Linked DNA regions of Homo sapiens: region 1 is linked to region 2. Evidence: fine-mapped expression QTL. A gene starts in region 2. The other region holds a variant in brackets. All regions are shown on one strand. Distances are between the middles of the regions.

The links. PIP is the estimated chance that this variant, and not a neighbour inherited with it, causes the effect.
Region 1: its variant is the best candidate, but not a certain one, in a credible set for the expression of KRI1 in whole blood (TOPMed, PIP 0.77).

The regions. Positions count from the first base shown.
Region 1 is chr19:10,507,552-10,510,456 of GRCh38, forward strand. No RefSeq gene overlaps it. Among named protein-coding and RNA genes, the nearest start is that of KEAP1, 5.6 kb to the left of the region's middle. The variant G/C (reference allele first, on the strand shown) is at 1,348.
Region 2 is chr19:10,564,299-10,567,203 of GRCh38, forward strand. It overlaps KRI1 (KRI1 homolog), which reads right to left and starts at 1,712. Exons shown (of 19, transcript NM_023008.5): 1 at 1,608-1,712; 2 at 1,419-1,492; 3 at 631-736. The coding sequence starts at 1,701. CDKN2D (cyclin dependent kinase inhibitor 2D) reads right to left here. Exons shown (of 2, transcript NM_001800.4): 2 at 2,162-2,905. The coding sequence ends at 2,760. RefSeq lists enhancers at 817-1,384, 1,133-1,182, 1,385-1,952, 2,901-2,905 and a silencer at 1,453-1,982.

The sequences.
Region 1 (2,905 bases), 57 kb before region 2:
CATGAAGGTGGGAACCTCATGATGGGATTAGTGTCTTTATAGGAAGAGCACACCAGAAAGTGTTCTCTCTTTCTTTTTTCTTTTCTTTTTTTTTTTTTTTTTTTTTTTTGAGACAGGCTGGAATGCAGTGGTGCCATCTCCACTCACTACAACCTCCGCCTTACAGGTTCAAGCAATTCTCCTGCCTCAGCCTCCTGAGTAGCTGGAGTTACAGATGTGTGCCACCACACCCAGCTGATTTTTGTATTTTTAGTAGAGATGGGGTTTCACCATGTTGGCCAGGCTGATCTTGAACTCCTGGCCTCAGTTGATCCACCTGCCTCAGTCTCCCAAAGTGTTGGGATTATAGTCATGAGCTACCTCGCCCGACCTGCTCTCTGTTTCTTTCCCCAACATGTGGGAACACAGTGAGAAAGCGGCTGTCTGCAAGCTCAGAAGAGAGTCCTCACTAGAACACAACCATGCTGACATTCTCTTTTTTTGAGACCATGTCTCGCCCTGTCGCCCAGGCTGGAGTGCAGTGGAGTGATCTCCGCTCACTGCAACCCCTGACTCCTGGGTTCAAGCGATTCTTCTGCCCCAGCCTCCGGAGTAGCTGGGATTACATGCGCATGCCGCCACACCCAGGTAATTTTTTGTATCTTTAGTAGCAACGGGGTTTCACCATGTTGGCCATGCTGGTCTCAGATTCCTGACCTCGTGATCCACCTGCTTCGGCCTCAGTGCTGAGATTACAGGCGCGAGCCACTGCTCCTGGCCTTTTTTTTTTTTTTTTTTTTTTTTTTTTTCCGAGACAGAGTCTCGCTCTGTAATCCAGGCTGAAGTGCAATGTCGCGATCTCAGCTCACTGCAACCTCCACCTTCTGAGTTCAAGCAGTTCTCCTGCCTTAGCCTCCCCAGTAGCTGGGATTACAGGCACCTGCCACCACGCCTAGCTAATTTTTTTTTTGTATTTTTGGTAGAGACAGCTGTTTCACCGTGTTGGCCAGGCTGTTCTCGAACTCCTGATCTCAGGTGATCCGCCTGCCTGGGCCTCCCAAAGTGCTGGGATTACAGGCGTGAGCCACAGTGTCCGGCCCCAGGCTGCCATTCTGATATTGGACTTCCTACCCTCCAGAACGATGCAAAAGTAATTACTGGGACTTAAGCCACCCCATCTAGGGTATTTGTTATGCAGTCCAAGCTGACTAAGAGCAAGACATTACAAAATGTGTGGGTATTGCCAGGCGCTGTGGCTCATGTCTGTAATCCCAGCACTTGGGAGGCCGAGGCAGGTGAATCACTTGAGCTCAGGAGTTTGAGACCAGCCTCAAAAAAAAAAAAATTAGCTGTGTGTGGTTGTGAGCT[G/C]TGTTGTGGTTTTGAGCTCTGTGGTTGTGAGCCAGGTGTGGTGTGGGGATATTTGGTCCCAGCTACTACACGGGAGGCTGAGGCAGGAGTAGTATTGCTTGAGCCTGAGAGGTGGAGGCTGCAGTGGGCCATAATTGTGTCAAATGCACTCCAGCCTGGGCAACACAGCAAGACCCTATCTCAAAAACCAAACAAACAAGAAAATGTGTGGGTGTGCAATATTTTTGCAAGATATACTTTTCAAAAAAATTTTTTAGACAGGTCTTGCTGTATCACCCAGGCTGGAGTGCAATTGTACAATCATAGCTCACTGCAGCCTTGACCTCCCAGGCTCAGGCGATCCTCCCACTCCAGCCTCCCCAGTGTCTGGGACCATAGGCATGTGCCACTGTGCCCGGGTGATTTTTTTTTTTTTTTTAGATAGTGTCTCACTCTGTTACTCAGATTGGAGTGCAGTGGCATGATCTCGGCTCCCTGCAACCTCTACTTCCTGGGTTCAAGCAATTCTCATGCCTCAGCCTCCTGAGTAGCTGGGATTACAGGAACCTGCCACAACGCCTGGCTATTTTTTGCATTTTTAGTAGAGACGGGGTTTCACCATGTTGGCTAGGCTTGTATCTAACTCCTGGCCTCAAGTAATCCTCCCGCCTTGGCCTCCCAAAGTGCTGGGATTACAGGCATGAGCCACCATGCCCGGCCCACCTGGGTGATTTTTGAATCATTTCTAGAAACTGGGTCTCCCTATGTTGTGTGGGCCTATCTCCAACTACTGGGCTCAAATGATCCTTCTGCCTCAGCCTCCCAAAATGCTAGGATTACAGGCGTGAGCCAACATGCCCTGCCAAGATATACTGTTAAGTCAACAAAGCAACATGCAGAACAGTGATAAATTTGTACAAAAAGACAGGAGGTGTATTTACATTTCATTTTGGCAAGGTGAATCCACAGACTAGCTCTGGAAGGTCCCCAGGAGTCCCACTGTGATCGCCACAAGGAAGGGGAACTGCGTGCTTTTTTTTTTTTCTTGAGATGGAGTTTCATTCTTTTTGCCGAGGCTGAAGAGCAATGGCATGAGCTCGGCTCACTGCAACCTCTGCCTCTTGGGTTCACGTGATTCTCCTGCCTTGGCCTCCCAAGTAGCTGGGATTACGGGTGCACGCCACCATGCCCGGCTAATTTTGTATTTTAAGTAGAGACGGGGTTTCCCCATGATGGCCAGACTGGTCTCAAACTCCTGACCTCAGGTGATCCGCCCGCCTCGGCCTCCCAAAGTGCTGGGATTACAGGTATGAGTCCACTGCGCCTGGCTGAACTGGATGCTTTTTAAATTTTCTAGAAAACTCATAAGCAAGTGTGCCTGTGTTCCAACTGGTTGGTTTCCCGTGTGTGTGGCCTCCAGGGGCACTCTGAACGTGGCCAGCAGGGACTTGGGGTCCCCCCAGTCTGGGACACCTGTCCCCAAAACACCGCTTTTTTTGAGGTTGCCTGCAGTTCCAAGGTTTCCCGGAAGGTGGAGCGCTGCAGTCTGAACCCGAAGCCAGACGCCCCCCAACCCGGC
Region 2 (2,905 bases):
AAAAATCCCAAATTAGCTGGGCGTGGTGGCGCGTGCCTGTAATTCCAGCTACTCAGGAGGCTGAGGCAGGAGAATCGCTTGAACCTGGGAGACGGAGGTTGCAGTGAGCTGAGATCGTCCCATTGCAACCCAGCCTGGGCAACAAGAGTGAAACTCCATTTCAAAAAAAAAAAAAGAGAAATGGGGTCTTGCTATGTTGGCCAAACTGGTCTCAAACTCCTGGCCTCAATTGACCCTCCCACCTCAGCCTCCCAAAGTGCTGGGATTAGATGCTTGAACCACCTGCCCAGCCTGGTGGAGTTGGAATCATTCAGTCAGCAATTCCCACCTTGAATAGTGCCAAGGACACAGTCATTAACTCCACCACCAGGTAATAACCTAGGCTCTGCTAAGGACTTGTGACTTGTGAAGCAATTCATTCAATAGTCAAAACAGATGAACTGTGTAAACTGGGTAAATCCCAATCTATCCTTAAAACAGCCCTGAGGGGAGATGCTACCGTTAGATATACTTTACAGACAGGAAAAGAGGCTCAGAGAAGTCAAGTCACTTCTCTGAATCCACAGTCAGGAAAGGACCCCGGATTCTGCTCCAGAGGAAGGAGAGGTTTAGACAGGAGTGGCCCCGGACCTGTTCTGTTATAGAAGGTGGCATCTTTCTGATAAATGCGGGGGTCCTTCTTCTTCAACAAGGAGAGCGTTTTGTAAAAGTCCCGCTCCTGCTGGGGATCAAATTCCTAGGGCAGGAAAAGGGTTGGGGATAGATTTCAGAAGGGAGATAATAAGAGCCCTGGCGCCAGCAGGTGAGCTCAGCGTAGGGATTAGGATGGAGGGGGGTGGATCTGGCTGGGGAGGTCAAACAGGTGGTCAAACAGCAGGAGGGAGAGGGGCCCTCTTGGGGTGGGCAGGGGCAGGCCACAGGTAGGTACAGGATATGGGTAGAGGAAGGTGAGGGGCAAGGAGAAGGTAATTCCTGGGGAAGACAAAGACTTGACAAGGGGCAGGTGGGCTGAGGGCACAAGAGAGACAGCGGGGAGGGGCTGGGCCAGGCCGCACAGTGGGGCCAGGATCAGGGCTGATGTGAGAAGTTGGGCGCCCCACGTGGCGCAAGGAGTACACTAAAAAATGGCTAGACTCTTGAGGATGAAAGAGGAAAGGGGGGGTTCTTGGGGGACAGAGTCGCCCCACACATCAGAGTGGGCAGGTGGGGATCGTGGCAGGGGAGAGAAAATAACGGGGATTTGGCTCCCCTGGGGAGAGGGGGGGCACTGTCTGTCCCTCATGGGATGGGGAGCGGAGGATGGGACGCTCCCGCAGGGCGCTCTGGGGTTGGGGGTTCCCCCCCGTCTACATCGGGGTCGGGGTGCAGAGGGGGGCTTGGACGCCTCCGCACGTCCAGGACGGGGCGGGGACGCGCACCACGCGCTCGTCGCTTGAGTCCGACTCGGAGCTGGAGTCGCTGCTGCTGTCTCGGTCCCCGTAGCGATCCTTCACTGCGGGACACAGACGGGATGCCCCCCCCCAGGTCAGCCGGCGGGGCCACTCGACTCCCCACTTCCCAACCGGCCGGCGCGCGCAGGCTCCCGCGCGCATGCGCCCCGCACTCACGCCGCTGCAGTTCCTCGCGCTCCCGGTAGCGGTTGTACCGCGCGGCAAACGCCGCGTTCACCCGCAGCTGCGACGACCCGCGCGGTTCCGGCATGGCGGTTCTGTGGCCCATTGCGCACGCGCATTGAGGAAGCCCTGGACGGGGCGGGGCCGCCCTCAGTCCCGCCCGCATCCACTTGTAAACGAGGCGTACCGCTGCTAACCCCGCCCCTGGCTTTTCCGGGATCCCTTTCGCCTCATCACCGCAGTCACCGCCCACGGCTACGCCCCTGCGGGGAAGGCCGCGGCCACCGCCCACCCGCCCCACCCCCTGTGCTCCGGGCACCCAGCTGACATCTGGGGGCCCTTTCTCCACTCGCGGTTTCCTGCTTCCCTTCCGTTCCGACAGCGAAAACCGCTGCCCCACCCAGCTCACTCACCCTGGCGCCCTGGGAATTACTATTCTCTCCCCTCACCCACCACATCCACGATCCGCGACCCCCGTCCTCATCCCCATCAACATCCGGGATGTGTAACTCTCCATCCCAGACTCAAAAATCAGAAGCCACCCGTGCTGTGATCATGCACAAGTCTTAATTTAATGGGTAAAAACATTAAATTATTACAACATTTTTTCCAATAAAGCATAATAAATAGAATCCATTTCTTTTAAAACGCTGTACAAGAGACTGGAAAACAAGCTTCCAACAGAATATGAATAACTCATAACTCATTCTACCTTCTTATTGATTTGGGACGCTCCCCCCACCCCCCATGCCTGAAGCAACGTGCACACTTCAGGTCTCTGAGCACAGCCGGCCAAGGCCACCAGCTTCTAGGCTCCCTGGAGGTCATGACTTCACTCTTAAATGCTCTGCCCTTGGGTCTCGTCTGAGGCCCCAGCAGCCTGAGGCGCAGAAGAAACTGAACCGTTTAGGTGGCTGTGGCCTGCAGGAGCCCTTCTCTGTCCAACACACCAAAAGGAGTGAGAAAAACAAATGAGAAACGTCCCCCAAACACTCACACCCCCAAAACCAACACCTATAAGCCACAAACTGTGCTCCTCCCCTACTGCAGCAGTGGGCAGGAGAAACAAGAAGAGAAAGTGTTTCTTCCCCTCTCTTCTGATACATAACCCCACGGGGTTCTCTTGCTGGAGAGGGTGACCCCAGATCACAGCGGGGCCACCATGTGGCCCTGCAGGATGTCCACGAGGTCCTGAGCCCCTCTCTGCAGTGCCAGCTCCAAGGGTGTGAGACCCCTGGCGTCCCTGCGATGGAGATCAGATTCAGCTGCCAGAAAGCTGACCACAGCAGTGT